2 linked regions of the Homo sapiens genome follow. The protein of the gene in region 2 interacts with the protein of the main gene of each other region in a pairwise test. Each region holds a gene or a part of one and is shown on either strand. Other genes may lie near its edges.

Region 1 (7,628 bases), on a different chromosome or scaffold from region 2:
AGCTGCTTGGGAGGCTGAGGTAGGAGGACTGCTTGGGTCCAGCAGTTCGAGGCTGCAGTAAGCTATGATCTGCTTCCGCTACTGCACTCCAGCCTGGGTGACAGAGCGAGACCCTGTCTCAAAAACAAAGACAACGAAAGAAAGCTGATCCTAACTAGGTTCTCTGTGTCACCAGGGAACCAATTTTAGGAAGTTGATAAGTTTTTAACTGTCTGTGTTTATTAGCAATTCCCATTATGTTCAGCTGTGTTTCTAAGGGAGGTTATACTTCCAAGTCTTAAATATGCTGATTAGGACTTCTGGTATTTTAAGGTTTGTTAAAACTGTATAATTAAGTAACACCTCACTTTTATAAGCAGTCTCCATGGCTCTCAATCCAAGCTTTGCCATTTTCTAGCTGTGTGACCTCCTCTGCCTCAGTTTTATCATCTGTAAACTTGGGATAAAAGAATCTCCCTCATGGGGATTGACATAAGGATGAAATAAGTTGATACATATGATGTATTTAGAATAATAGTTCCTAGAAGGTGGAAGGTACTGAACATTATTTTAAAGAGCCTGCTATTTTATAAAGCTGGGTTTCAAACAGCTTTTTAAATAAATTGGACAATATATTCAGGTCTGTATTACAAAATAGAGGTTTCTTACTTAGGATGTCTGTGAATTCAGTTAACATTGTAAGCAAATTTTATGTATGAATTGTGTGCTGGGGAGAAAGTCCTTTGGCTTTCACTGGAGTCTTGTCTTTTTTTTTTTTTTGGAGACAGAGTTTCGCTCTTGTCACCCAGACTGGAGTGCAATGGCGCGATCTCGGCTCACTGCAACCTCCACCTCCCAGGTTCAAGCGATTCTCCTGCCTTAGTCTCCCGAGTAGCTAGAATTACAGGTGCCCGCCACCACGCCTGACTTATTTTTAGTAGAGATGGGGTTTCACCACATTGGCCAGGCTAGTCTCAAACTCCTGACCTCACGTGATCCACCCCCCTCAGCCTCCCAAAGTGCTGGGATTATAGGCGTGAGCCACCACGCCTGGCCTCACTGGAGTCTTAAAGGGATCATAAACCCCATAGAATGTTATGTCACTGATGTGGTATCCACTGATGTATCCTCCAACAAATTACAATTGAAAACCAAACCAAAACAAAAAGAAGCCCTTCACTTTTAAATTAACCATATTTTTATTATCTTAAGTGCTGTTATTTATTAAAAGTAAAGAAGTAGAACTTTATGTTAAAAGAACATTTTCATATATGTAATACCTAGGTTATGAATTTTTAAATGCGTATATAACTAAGTTAATATTGAACCTAATCTTATCTTTTCGATGATCCAAAGGCAGTTATGGTTATTTCAGTACCTGAAGGTCATGGTAAGCATTAATCATCGTGATACTGTGGCTGTGGTAGAAGGTTTAATAGCACTGTAATGCAACGGGATTTCCTGTGTCCACGTAACTTGAAGCTCAAGGCACAATTCTTTTAGATAAGAAAATATCTAAAAATGCTATATTATAATTGACTTATTGCTTTTAATAAAGAGGTTTCTACTATGGATATCTGTTATTTACTGAATATCTTAAAGAGAAAAAATTGTATTGTTGTCCATTATGTTGTAGTCTAGACTCTCCAGTTAGTGCTTGCCCAGCCCATGACAAAAAACTGTATTCTCCCTTTTTTCCCTCCTGTTCATGTCTATAATTAGGTAGGAGTCATCACTTCCCTTTAATCCCATTTTACTGAATATCTACTGAGTGTAAAGAGCTTCTAGGAAGTCTGACGTGGGCAACCAAATGACCTAGAGTATAGGAAGAAAATGTAATTTCTTTTTTTTTGAGACAGGGTCTTGCTCTGTTGCCCAGGCTGCACTGCAGTGGCACAATCTCAGGTCACTGCAGCCTCTTCCTCCCAGGCTCAAGCAATTCTCGTGCCTCAGCCTCCCAAGTAGGTGGGATTACAGGTGTGTGCCACCACGCCCAGCTAATTTTTGTATCGTAGAGACAGAGTTTCACCATGTTGCCCAGGCTTAGAATTTCTATTTATCTGAAAATAAGAAAATACAATCTTTATTAATACTGAATATATAGACTCACCACAATATATGCATATATTTTGTAAGTAAATAGGTGTGTGTACAAATATTTTTAACTGATGGTGTTGTGTAGTCAGCAAAATTTGAAAACCACAGCTCTAAAAGATACAAAGAACTTTGATATAATCTTTTAAAATAGGGTTTTATATTATTAAAGTAGCACTGATATTCCCTGCCTATGAACTGCTTTATTTAATGTATTCTGATTCATTTATGGTAATTAGAAAATTTATTTGAAGGCTGGGCACAGTGGCTCATGCCTGTAATCCCAGCACTTTGGGAGGCTGAGGCGGGAGGATTGCAGTTCAAGACCAGCCTGGGTAACATGATGAGACCCCCATCTCTACAAAAAATTAGCAAGGCCTGGTGGTGTGTGCCTGCGGTCCCAGCTACTCAGGAGGCTGAGGCAGGAGGATCCCTTGAGCAAAGGAGGTTGAGACTGCAATAAGCCATGTTCATGCCACTGCACTGCAGCCTGGGTGACTGGGTGACTGTCTCAAAAAAAGAAATAAAAGAAAAATTATTTGAACTGTTTTGGCACTGATTAGACAGCTGTGAGGGAGTGGAAAGGGGACTGACTTTGGAATCACTAAATGGGACTTGATTCCTGGATCTGCCACTTTCTATGACCTTAGGTGAATTGCTTAATTTTGGGCCTCAGTTTCTTAATATGTAAACTGGAGATAATGCCACAACCACAAGGGTAGTAGTGAAGATATAAATGTGATGGGAAATGGTACATAGAAGATGGTTCAAAACTGTGTTTGATATGCTTATCTTTTATCAGTGCTGTACAGCAAGAGTTTTTCAGTGTTATTTGAAGTGACTTCAGTTGCTTATTTATACCGTAATAATTGCCTGATGTATCACAAGTATTTTAAATTGCCTAACAAGAAGTAGGATTTTTGGAATTTGCACAGTAAGACCAAATTTACTGATTATTTATGACTACAGTCAGTACTGTTTTTCTTATTTCTATTTATCCAACCCTTCCAAATAGATGCCTTCCAGTTGACTTAAATTTAATATCTCCTGTGGCGTTTATACATATATATGCACACATTTATGCAAAAAGCTATTAAAGCAGTTCTGATAATTAACTTACTTAGATGTGGCTGAAAACTTTATTCTTAAATTTCAAAAATGTTTATATAGAAGCAGCCATTTTTCTCAAGCATTTTTTAAAAATTCCTGCCATTTGTGAATTATATAGCAAATGATTACCTAGGTTTTGGCATTAAGCCCACTTCACTACTTCTTACTAGTAAAACAAAGGATTACATTTGTTCAGTTATATAAACCTGTTCTCATTACTTAGTTTTGAATCAGGAAATTGAAGCGTTCAGTCTGTCCGAAGACACTTCATCGGGGCTGCCTGAGGATCGAGTTGTCAGCGTGAGTTTCCGAGTTCTCTACCCCATCGTTATTACCAGTCTTGGAGTGTTCTACGATGCCAATGATGTGGGTTTCCAGAGGAACATCACTGTCAAACTTTATCAGGCAGAACAAGAGGTATGCACTGCTCTGTACAGGTTTTTTCTCTTTTTTCTTTTTCAAAAACATCAACTTTTCCTTGTGACATACAGTAAGTAGATTGGAAGACTATATAATTCTCTCTGGTTGAGAGACTTTCACCTTTCTTCCCCTATTGACTAAATACACTGTAGTGTGATATAAGACTGGTTTGGGGATAGATTATCTGTGAATAAATGTGCTATATCTAGAAGAGAAGGAGTTGACTAGATTAGAAATCTCCAACCTAAAATTCCCTAAAACCTAGGGAATTTCAAAAGTTGGTAATGGATATAAAAAAAGTTTAGGATTCTTAGGATAAGTGAGTATTATTGCCTCTTACTTCCAACTGTAGAAGTCTGTAATACAAGGCTAATAACTGCTTCAAATCTTTTTTGTAATAAGGATATAGAGGGAATAAAAGTTATTCTTTTACAGAAAACAGAAAACCAGTGAGGTTTCTCTATTCCCGATATGTAGGGAAATCTGATTTGTTCACAGAGTGCATGTGAAGTAGCAGCATGGAAATGTATTTGAAGGATCTGTTTTTTAGTTTTAAACATGAAGAAAACTTGAAGGAATTATTCAGTAAACCCTATAGCCACTAACTACATTCTACAACAATTAACGTTTTCCTGTATTTGGTTTATTACTCCTAAGTAGCTGGGATTCTAGGTGCATGCCACCACACCTGGCTAATTTTTGTATTTTTAGTAAAGATGGGATTTTGCCATGTGGGCTAGGCTGGTGTCAAACTCCTGACCTCAAGTGATCTGCCCTTCTCGGCCTCCCAGAGTGCTGCCTCAGCCTCCCAAGTAGCCTCCCAAAGTGCTGGGATTACAGGCGTGAGGCACCGCACCAGGCCTGGTGTGCTTTTTCTTTGTCTGTTTTATTCAGGGCGTGCTACATGTTTCTTCAATCTGTAAATGTATGTATTTTACCAAATTTGGGGGATTTTCAACTATTAATGTCTTCAGAACCTTTTCTGACTTCGCTCGCTCTCTCTATTCCTCCTGGGATTCCAGTTACATGTATGTTAGATCTTTTGGTATTGTCCTGCAGATCACAAGACTGTTCATTTTTTTCAGTGTTTTTTCTCTTTTCTAATGTAGATAACTTCTGTTCATCTGTATTCAAGTTTAGTGACTCTTCTGTCATCTCAAATCTGAAGTTAAGCCTATCCAATGAATTTTTTATTTTAGATTTATTTTAAATATTATACTTTTTAGTGCTTCAGTTTCCATTTAGTTCTTTTTTACTGTTTCTATTTCTCTAAAATTTCCTATGTGTTCATTGTTTGAGAATATTTTTCTCTACAGCTTTGACCATAGTTATAACAGCAGCTTTAAAATCTGTGTACGCTTATTCTGAGTCATCTCAGCGTCTGTCTTTATTGATTATTATCTTTCCTCTAAAATATGGGTAACATTTTTCTGTTTTATGTCTAGTATTTTGGGGGGTTTTTTGGTTTGGGTTTCGGTTTTTTTGTTGTTGTTTGACAGGGTCTCGCTCTTTTACCTGAGCTGGAGTGCAGTGGCACAGTCGTGGTTCACTGCAGCCTTAAACTCCTGGGCTCAAGCTATCCGCCCATCTCAGCCTCTTGAGTAGCTGGGACTACATGCTACTCATGCATTGTATCCTAGATATTGTAAATAATTCATTGTAGGAACTCTGGATCCTATTATATTCCTCAGAGTATTGATTTTTTTTTTTTGTTTTAGCAGGCAGCTAAATTGGCTGGACACAGACTAAACATTGTCTCACTTGCAGTGAGAAACAGCTAAAATCTCTATTCAGTTTCTCTGGCCTTGGATGGGCTACTTGGGTTCTGCCTTGTATGTGTATTTCATGAGTCAGCCACAGATTTGGGTAGAGTTTATATGAAGAATTTGTGGTTCTCTCTCTCTGTGATCCTTTCCTTTCTGGGAGGTTCCCCCTAATGCCTTTTATTAATTGATGTGTTTGCCCCAACTCTGTCCTCTTAATTTTCAAGCAGAAAGACTACAGATTTTCATTCAAATTTCTAGTTACCCTAGAGTTGTATCCTCAGACAAAGAGTCAAGAAGTGGGGTAGGGAGGAGATGCATATTTGGAGCCTTTTCCTTCTTCCAAGTACTGATTCTTCTCTAGTTTCTGCCTGTTTGTTTGAATTCCAGTGCCTTCAAATCATTGTTTTTTATGTTTCATCCAGAGTTCATAGTTACTATCTATAGGAGAATTGGTCTGATATTACTGGCAGCAGAACTCTGTTCAGTTTTTTAAAATGTGTTTGTATTATTAATGTTGATTATTAGCAATGAATATAATGTTAGAGACTCATCAATAAATACACAAATAAATTTGAGATTAAATTTCTTTTTTGGAATTTGCCCTGTTCTTCCTCTAAATAATCTGTCTCGTTTGTTGATGTGTTTATAGACATAAATATAAGACAGAGGGAAGAGTAGGATTTCTACTGATGATGCCAGCTATAATGATTAGTGAGAAGAGCTTTGTATACTCAACTATAGGAGTCCATATATGATTGTAGTTAACAGTTTCATTGATACTGAAGATCAAATAGGTAATTGAAATAGCAGTACTCTGAGTATCACTGTTATCTAGAAATTAGAATTAATCTTGAATTTTTTTGATACACTTGTTTATCTTAGTATATATAGTTTAAAAAAAAAACTATCAGCCAGGCGCAATGGCTCACGCCTGTAATCCCAGCATTTTGGGAGGGCAAGGCAGATGGATTGCTTCAGCCCAGGAGTTAGAGACCAGCCTAGGCAATACAGTGAGACCCCATCTCTACAAAAAATTAAGAAAATAGGCAGGCATGGTAGCATTTGCTTACAGTCCCAGCTACTTGGTAGGTTGAGGTGGGAGGATCACTTGAGCCCAGGAGGTCGAGGCTGCATTACAGTGAGCCGTGATTGCACCACTCACTCCAGCCTAGGTGACAGAGTGAGACTGTCTCAAAAAACAAAACTATTTATAGTGTGCGAGTTATCAATCAAGTAGTTTGGTTCAGACATACAATATTTTGATCATGTCGATATAACTTCTAGTTGCCATATTTTTAACCAGGGAGGAGTTAATCTTTGTCCTCAAGGAAGGACTAGTCTAAGATGGATGCTAATGGGTTCATGGGTAGTCACGATGCAAAAACTATTCTTATACTGCATTGCTAAGAACTGGTGTTCATGAAAGAAATAGACATAATCCATTGAAATGTGCTTAATTTTGAACCCCTGCATGGTTTTAAGAGCTTAACAGAAGTTTCCCCTATGGTTAAGTTGGTATATAAGAATAGGCATGAGAATGAGGAAATGTTGCCTGGAAGAAATGGGAGAACCCAAGAAAACGATAGACATAGTGAAAATCAGTCCGGTTTTTTTTTTTTTTTTTTTTTTTTTTTTTTTTTTTTTTTTGAGACAGAGTCTGGCTCTGCGGTCCAGGCTGGAGTGCAGTGGTGCAGTCTTGGCTCACTGCAGCCTCCACCTCCTGGGTTCAAGCGATTCTCCTGCTTCAGCCTCCTAAGTAGCTGGGACTACAGGTGCCTGCCACCACACCCAGCTAATTTTTGTATTTTTAGTAGAAATTTGGAGTTTCACATGTTGGCCAGGCTGGTCTGGAACTCCTGACCTCAAGTGATCTGCCTGCCTCAGCCTCCCAAAGTGGTGGGATTACAAGCGTGAGCCACTGCACCTGGCTCCAGTCCTCTTTTATATTCCCTTTTTTGTTTTGTTTATATTTTCTTCTGAAGATTCTTTTTGAACGGAGTTTCCTGAGTGCTTTTGTTCCCAGTAAAAATCTGTGTCTTTCAGTTTAGTTTTAACCCTTTGGGGGAGTGTTGACACTATAATGTGTTGGCTTAATTTAACAACACTGCTCACTTCCCTGAATATTTTTTCTTTCAAGGTGGGTTTTTTTTTTAAGGTTATGTGGATTATGTTTAGCATTTGAGAATTTCGTGACAACTTTGATTACCTTAAATATCGTTATTTAATAACCATGACTGCACTAGAAAACCCAGTGATGCC
Region 2 (7,602 bases):
TCTTGTCCTGGCTTTGGGACTCACTCCACTGTGAGAGCCACATCTCTAGACCCAGTTTTAACATCAGTAAGACAATTCCCCTCAAATGAAAGAATGGCCAGGCGCGGTGGCTCATGCCTGTAATCCCAGCACTTTGGGAGGCCGAGCCAGGCGGATCACTTGAGGTCAGGTGTTCGAGACCAGCCTGGCCAACATGGTGAAACCTCGTCTCTACTAAAAATACAAAAATTAGCCGGGCATGGTGGCACATGCCTATAATCCCAGCTTCTCGGGAGGCTGAGGCAGGAGAATCACTTGAACCCAGGAGATGTAGGTTGCAGTGAGCCGAGACCATGCCACTGCACTCCAGCCTGGGCGACAGAAAAAAAAAAAAAAAAAAAAACTGAAAGATCAAAGTCCACTCTGCCAGTTTCTGATTCTGAATGAACAGCCTAACAGGAGGCTTCAGGGCAGAATGGCATGGCTCCCCAAGAACCTACACCAGGGGGTCACTACTGATGTGCAACTGTTTCCAAGGACATCTTCAGAGGCAGAAGTACATGGCATGTTCTCAGTATGGGGCTGTCCACACCCTCCCAAACTGTCCCCATAATGCTGTCTGGACCCTACGGCCAGCTCTTCCTGGGTGATCAGTTACGCCCGAGCTAAACAGTATATAACACTCTAGGAAAGAAAGAGTAGGAGGCAGGAAGTCCACTGACCTGGGTTCATGAACTAGCTGCAGGAATCCAGGCAAATGACCTCCCCTGGCCTCCTTTTATCCCTAAATCAGCCCACGTGGGGGAAAGGAGTAGGGACTTGTTTATGGGAGCCACAGTGGAGAAACAGAATCACCTAGCCAGGCATTTCCCAGACTGTTCTAAAGAACACGCCCCAGGAGACGTTAATGAATGAGTGCTGGAAACAGATGACTCTTGAGAAACAATCCACACCCCCTTCTTGGAAATTCACAATGGCATATTCTGCCCCTGAGAAGTCCTGCAGTAAGCAACCCTGTTCAGCTTTGTTTAACCCAGTGTTCCTTCAAACTCCCTTAAGCCTGAGCCACTTTTATCGAGGCAAACCTATTAACACCCTGTGGGATGCTGACCCAGGCCACCTTTGTATTACAGACACCCAACCCTGAGAATCATTCATATCCTAACTCCTCGTCTCTTATAACCTCTGTGCGTACACCCAGCTGCCCCTCAGAGCAGTCACATGAAGTACTAGACATGCCCTCTCACTCTCAGGGGGTCAGCCCAGTGCCAGGATCTCTGGCGAGGGTCCTCCCCTTCCCCCATTCCACACAGCTGCTATCCCACCGTGGGATTTACTGCCAAGGGCCGGGGGACATATCCAGCTACCACAGAACCAGGAAACGGGCACCCCTAACCTCACCTCTGTGCAACGGGGCAAAGCACAAATCATTACAGACAAAAGTGGGAGCTCATTAATATCTCCCTTCCCACCAATGGAGGTACCTGCCACTGTAGCCTGTCGACTTCTGGATATCATTTCTACTTCAAAACAAGACCCAGGTTTTGGCCTAGAATCCCAGAATCTTAGGGTTGGAAGATTCTGTCAAGGTCATCCCTTCCACTGTGTCCCCAACAGAATAGGTCCAGAAGGCCCATGTCATGATCAGACATGTTGTTAGCAGAACTTCTTCCCAGAGAATTGTATGAGCTTCCACTCTCTGGTCGTCCCAGTTCAGCCCTCTGAAAACACACAAGTATGTGTGTTTCCCTTCTCTGTGGCTTCTGCTTTTTCTGAAAGGCCCAGGGTGAGGCCTGCGGTTGGAGGTGCTCTGAGGTAGACAGCGTCTGGCTGAGGCACCCATTCCCAGGGGAGGAGGCTGAGCCCAGGTGGCTATTACCCCAGCTCATGACATGAGGCTCTCCCAACACTTACAGGATAACCCATCATTACCTCTCTGAAGGGCTCATTTTTACAAGTGAGGCCTTGAGGTCATAGCACAGAAAGACAGGGCCCCTGACACTGTGGTCCTGCCTCTTCCATTTAAGCTATAAACTGGTTCTCTGGATCCTCATGACTGGAGAGACAGAGAGAGGAGGCAGGTGAGAAGGAAGTATGGCTCCCCCTTTGCGCCAATAAAGCAGCCCCAGGAGGCACCTGGCTCCCCTGCCACCACTGGCCAGCCCAAAGTCGCCAGCTTGGAAACCAAAGCTCACTAATGAGATGAATATTTCAGAGCCCAGAGAACTGGACACCTGAGGGCCCTTCCATGACATCTGGCTCTGACCTGCGTTCCCAGGCCTACTTATCCCATGTCCAGGGTGCTCAGGTAGAACCCCAAACTCCTGGGTACCACGTAGAGGCCACAGAGGAGGGAGAGGAGATGGAGACCCCATAGGACAAGAATTGGTGCCGACCCCACAAGGCCAGGGCCTGGCCTCCCAGCAGCCTCCCTCTGCTTCCTCCCACTGGTCCCTGGCTCCTGCCCCAGTCTCTCCACTTGCTTTCCCTTTTCCCGTTTCTCTGTTTTGTTTTCACTCTAACCCAAAGAAGTCACGAGGAGGATGTTACTCCCCTGTAGTTCTGTGAACCCAGCCGGGAAACAGTGGCTGGAAGTGGGACTGGCAGAGGGCAAAGTCATGGTGATAGAGGTGGCCACTTCCCCATGCCAAACACTTGAGCTGCTCATTGGCTTCTGCCCCAGCTGCAAGCTAGGACCCCCCCTTCCCCACCCCTTAAATATTCACCTGTCTACACCGAGACTGGCCTCAGCGCGTGTGGGGGCAACCTGGGGTCCGTGCCAGGCCCTGGCTGTCTCCCCTCCCTCTTCCCTCTTCTCACCAGCTGAGGGCCATGAAAGCCCTCATCCCACACAGCTGGCCACTCGGGCTGGCATGGTGGATAGGCCCTGCGACAGAGAGGCCACTCGTGCCCGAAAGAGGGAACACGAGGACACCCCCAGACCCTGGCTCCGCTCACCAGTGCCCACAACACGCTGCTGGGCTCCCAAGGCTAACCAGGTGCCACAGACCCGGCCGCCCACCCGCGCGCCCAGGGAGAGCGAAACGCCAAGGGCCAGGAGGGGAGATCCCCATCTGGAACGGGCTCCTTGGGCCCAGGAGCGGGCAAGCCGGGAGCGCGCTCCGAAAAGTTTAGGCGCCCCGGCGCATGGCCGCCCCAGCCCTGGACCAGTCCCCACCGCCCACAGTCCCCAACGGCGCCGGCCCCGGCCCCCTGGCTTGCCTGCGCCGTTCCAGACGGAGCGTTCCTGGCCTCGGAGTGTTGCAAGTCCTCCGGGGCCGGGCAGGGCTAGGCTCGGCTGGGGCTCCGCGCCCCGCCCCGTCGCGCCGGCCTCGTGGGGCGGGGCCTCAGGGCGCCGCCAGGGGGCGCAGGGGTCTGTCCCGGGCGCGCGCGCCTCTCAGAGCCCCGACGACGCCTCACTAATAACACAGGGGTATTTTCGGATTTAAAGGCAATACATGATACTGATAGGAAGCTAGAAAAGACACAGAAATGCAGGGAAGAAAGTAATTTCTCTCCACCCCTCCTAGTTCCCAGGGGGAAGCGTTCGCTTTGGGTCCTTCTTTGGCTATTACATTTCTGTATGTATTTTGTTTTTCTACAGTGGGGTATATTGTATGGTGTTTTGTTTACTGCCCTTCTTTTTACTGTTTTATGATGAACATTTTTCTTCTCACTAAATAGTCTTCAAAAGCACAATCTTAATGCCGTGAAGTATTCCATTGCATGGCTATGCGGATTAAATTAATTTCCTACTGGAGGCCGTTTGTTTCCCATTTTTACATTACAAATAAATCAGTAATTAAAATCCTTGATAATTCTGTGTTTTTGAGATAAATGCACTTTTCGAGTTTAAAACTGCAAACATGCAAACCTAGAATCTCTGTTTATAATTACTCAACCAGGAAAGCAGGTGCTTTCCTCAAGTCAGAATTCAGAAGTCCTACATTGAGATGTAGATTACTACTGTTAGGTAGGTCTTAACCCTCATCTCAGTGAAGAATGCAGTAGCAAAGGAGGAAACAGTTTTGAGGAAGTTCTGAAATATTACTGGAGCCTGGGCATGGTGACTCACACCTGCGATCCTAGCACTTTTGGGAGGCCAAGGCCAGAGGATGGCTTGAGCCCAGGAGTTGGAGACCCAGCCTAGGCAACATAGAGAGACCTTGTCTCAATTTAAAAAGAGAAACATTACCGAGCCTTGCCTGAGTTTCTGTGGTTCCAAAGTCCAAGTTCTTTCCATGACACCAAGGCTGCCAGTAGTTGACCAACTCTGTTTAAAGTGCTTATCTCATGTTAATAGCTATAGGTCAGCACCACACCACCACTGAATGTCCTTTTTTTTTTTTTTTTTTTTTTCCAGACAGGGTCTCGCTCTGTCACCCAGGCTGGAGTGCAGTGGCGCCATCTCGGCTCACTGCATCCTCCTCCTGGTTTCAAGTGATTCTCCGGCCTCAGCCTCCTGAGTAGCTGGGATTACAAGTGTGTGCCACTACACCCAGCTAATTTTGTTTGTTTGCTTGTTTGTTTTGTTTGGTTTGTTTGTTTTGTAGAGATGGGTTTTCACGTTGTTGCATAGGCTGGTCTCAAACCCCTGAGCTCAAAGCAGTCAGCCCACTTTGGCCTCCCAAAGTGCTAGGATTACAGACATGAGCCACCACGTCCAGCCCCAAAACAGAGATTTAAAAAAAAAAAAAAAAAAAAAAGACAGATTTTTAAAAACTGCCCCCCATACACACACTATGTATGTTTATTTCTGTAAATATAGTTTAAGTAGGAGTTACTTAGGGGGACTAGTGGCCGTTATGGTGGGCTAGCTCCCCAGACACCCCAACCCTTCAGTGTACTTCCAGTTCCTACAGGCCAAGAACCTCATTTTAGGAAGTCCCCACCCAAGGTGTGATCTCACCAGAGCAAGTACAGTTCTGCTCAGTGTCTGTCTCCCCCTTGCTCAAGGAGTAGCGCCCTAGGTGAAATGCATGGCCCATGGAATCTGTCCAGATCCCTGACATTTTTTCATGCTCTCTACACTTGTGCTGTCTTAGTCCATCTGGGCTGCTACAACAAAAATACCTTAGAGTGGGTAATTTAGAAACAGCAGAAATGTATTGCTCACAGTTCTGGAGGGTGGGAAACGCAACATCAAGGCACCAGCAGGTTAGGTGTCTGATGAAGGCTCCCTCTGCTTCACAGATATCGTCTGAGTCCTCATATGGCCAAGGAAGGAACAAACAGACACCGCCCCCCCACCAGCCTTCCTTTTTTTTGAGATGGAATCTCACTCTGTGCAATGGCACAATTGCAGCTCACTGCAGCCTTGACCTCCCATGTACAAGCAATCCTTCCAACTCAGCCTCCTGAGTAGCTGGGACTACACACATGCACCACCACACCTGGCTAATTTTTGTATTTTTTGTAGAGACAGGGTCTCACTATGTTGCCCACGCTGGTCTTGAACTCCTGGGCTCAAGCAATTTGCCCTCCTCCACCTCCCAAAGTGCTGGGATTATAGGCGTGAGCCACTGCACCTGGCCACCAGCTTCTTTTCTAAGAGCATGAATTCCATTCCAGAGGGTTCCGCCTTCATGACCTAATCACTTCCTAAAGGCCTCACCTTTTAATACTATAACATTGAGGATTAAGTTTCAACAAATGAATGGAGTGGGGACAACAACATTCCCACCATAGCAGGCCCCTTCTCCAGAAAACACCCTCCACTTTCTAGAACCACCAGGATGGTTAATATCCAAGGAGATTCCATTTCCAACCAGCAATCACCAGCGACTCACATCTGCCCGACTGGGGGAGTGGGACATGGGGCACACGAGGCAAGCCCACACAAGCCTTGCTGCGTGCTTTTTCTCCAGAGCCCTTTTTCTGACTATAGGGTCAAAAATAACACCTGAAGCGCCTGGCCCAGAGCAGCAGTGCTTCGCTGGCAATAGGCATTCGATAAATGATGTTTTTTTCTCTTGGGCCTTATCTGCAAAATTATTAAGTAAGCTTTTATTGTCTGCCAACCAGACAGGAATTTCCGGTTCTAGAAATGAGAAGGCTGAAAGAACACAGCCCCTGCTCTCAAGAAACTCACAGTCTAAGGGAGCCAGTAAAATGACAGATTATTACAATGTTGACAGTTTGACAAGTGCTGGCAGATAAAGAAATATTCACTTGGTTCCTCCAGATCCCAGAGAAAGCTCCTAACCCAGTGTGGGGAATGGGGTGGGGGTTCGGGAAAGGAGTTCAGAGGAGGTGACACCTGAGTAGAGTGTTAGGAGGTGTTAGGAACCAGCCTATTCGGAGGAGGGGAGAAGGTTCTCCAGGCAGAGGGCAAGGGACTTAGGGCCAGTTGCCCCAGCAAGCTAGGATGGGGGGTGGAGGGTGCAGTGGGGTAGAAGGGGTAGGAAATAGGGCTGGCCAAGGAGGCAGGGGGCCAGAAATTGAGATTTTACCCTGAAAGCAATGGGGAGCCAGAAAATAACCACCTAGAGGGAGTTTGGGAGGGTTGGGGAGGCTCTGGTGGTGCCCCTGGGGTAGGGTTCCAGCTTTAGCAAATAAAGATGCAAGGCAACCAGTTTGAGCTTCAGATAAACAACAAACCTTTTTTTTTTTTTTTTTCAAGACAAGGTCTGGCTCTGCACTCCCAGGCTGGAGTACAGTAGTGCGATCTTGGCTCGCGGCAACCTCCACCTCCCAGGCTCAAGCCATCCTCCCACCTCAGCCTCTCAAGTAGCTGGGACTACAGACATGAGCACCACCACGCCCGGCTAATTTTTGTATTTTCTGTGGAGACAGGGTTTTGCCATGTTGCCCAGGCTGGTCTTGAACTCATGAGCTCAAGCAATCCATCCGCCTCACCCTCCCAAAGTGCTGGGACTACAGGCATGAGCCGCTGCGCCCGGCCAAACAATATTTTTTCATATAAGCATATCCCACTGCCCCATATAATATTTGGAAATACTTGTACTAAAAAAAAGTACTCATTGCTTATCTGAAATTCACATTTAACTGGTTGGTTGTATTTTTCCAGCAACACTACCTAGGAGGAAAGTGGAGTCAAGTCCATGGCTGCAGGAAGAGGGGTGGAGGAGTGAAAGGGATTAGACTGATGTTTATTTTAGGACTGGATGTTATTTTAGGTATTTTAGGACTAGCTAAAGCTTAGTGATTGGTGGGAGGGGGTGGTGGCAGCCTGGAAGGGGTGGGCCCAGGTGGAACCTGAAGGACATGGGCAGGAAAAACTTAATTGGAGCGGTGGATCCAGAGAACTTTCTCTGTTGCCACCCTCCAGCCCAGCCCCAGGACTCCACTAATTGGTCCTCCAAACCCTTCTCATAGCTGCCTGGTTACCTAGCATTTAATGTGTTACTCTACCCATGCATTGATCACTAACTTTCTGAAAGAAGTTGCCTTTTTTCTGTTTTTCTTTTTCTTTCTTTCTTTCTTTCTTTTTGAGATGGAGTCTCACTCTGTCACCACGGCTGGGGTGCAGTAGCATGATCTCGGCTCCCTGCAACCTCCGCCTCCTGGGTTCAAGCGATTCTCCTGCTTGGCCTCCTGAGTAGCTGAGATTACAGGCGCCCACCACAATGCCCAGCTAATTTTTGTATTTTTAGTAGAAAC

The links. Proteins that work in one complex are often made in the same cells at the same time.
Region 1: the proteins of TMBIM1 (region 2) and B3GALNT2 interact in binary tests that used the Homo sapiens proteins (3 or more experiments, as listed by UniProt).

Annotation. Positions count from the first base shown.
Region 1 is NC_000001.11:235,480,294-235,487,921, reverse strand, and holds part of B3GALNT2 (UDP-GalNAc:beta-1,3-N-acetylgalactosaminyltransferase 2), read left to right. Parts: intron 1-3,406; coding exon 3,407-3,600; intron 3,601-7,628. UniProt on the Homo sapiens protein: Beta-1,3-N-acetylgalactosaminyltransferase that synthesizes a unique carbohydrate structure, GalNAc-beta-1-3GlcNAc, on N- and O-glycans. Has no galactose nor galactosaminyl transferase activity toward any acceptor substrate.
Region 2 is NC_000002.12:218,289,265-218,296,866, forward strand, and holds the start of TMBIM1 (protein lifeguard 3), read right to left. Parts: upstream 3,240-7,602; 5' UTR 3,202-3,239; intron 733-3,201; exon of another isoform or gene 702-732; intron 1-701. UniProt on the Homo sapiens protein: Negatively regulates aortic matrix metalloproteinase-9 (MMP9) production and may play a protective role in vascular remodeling.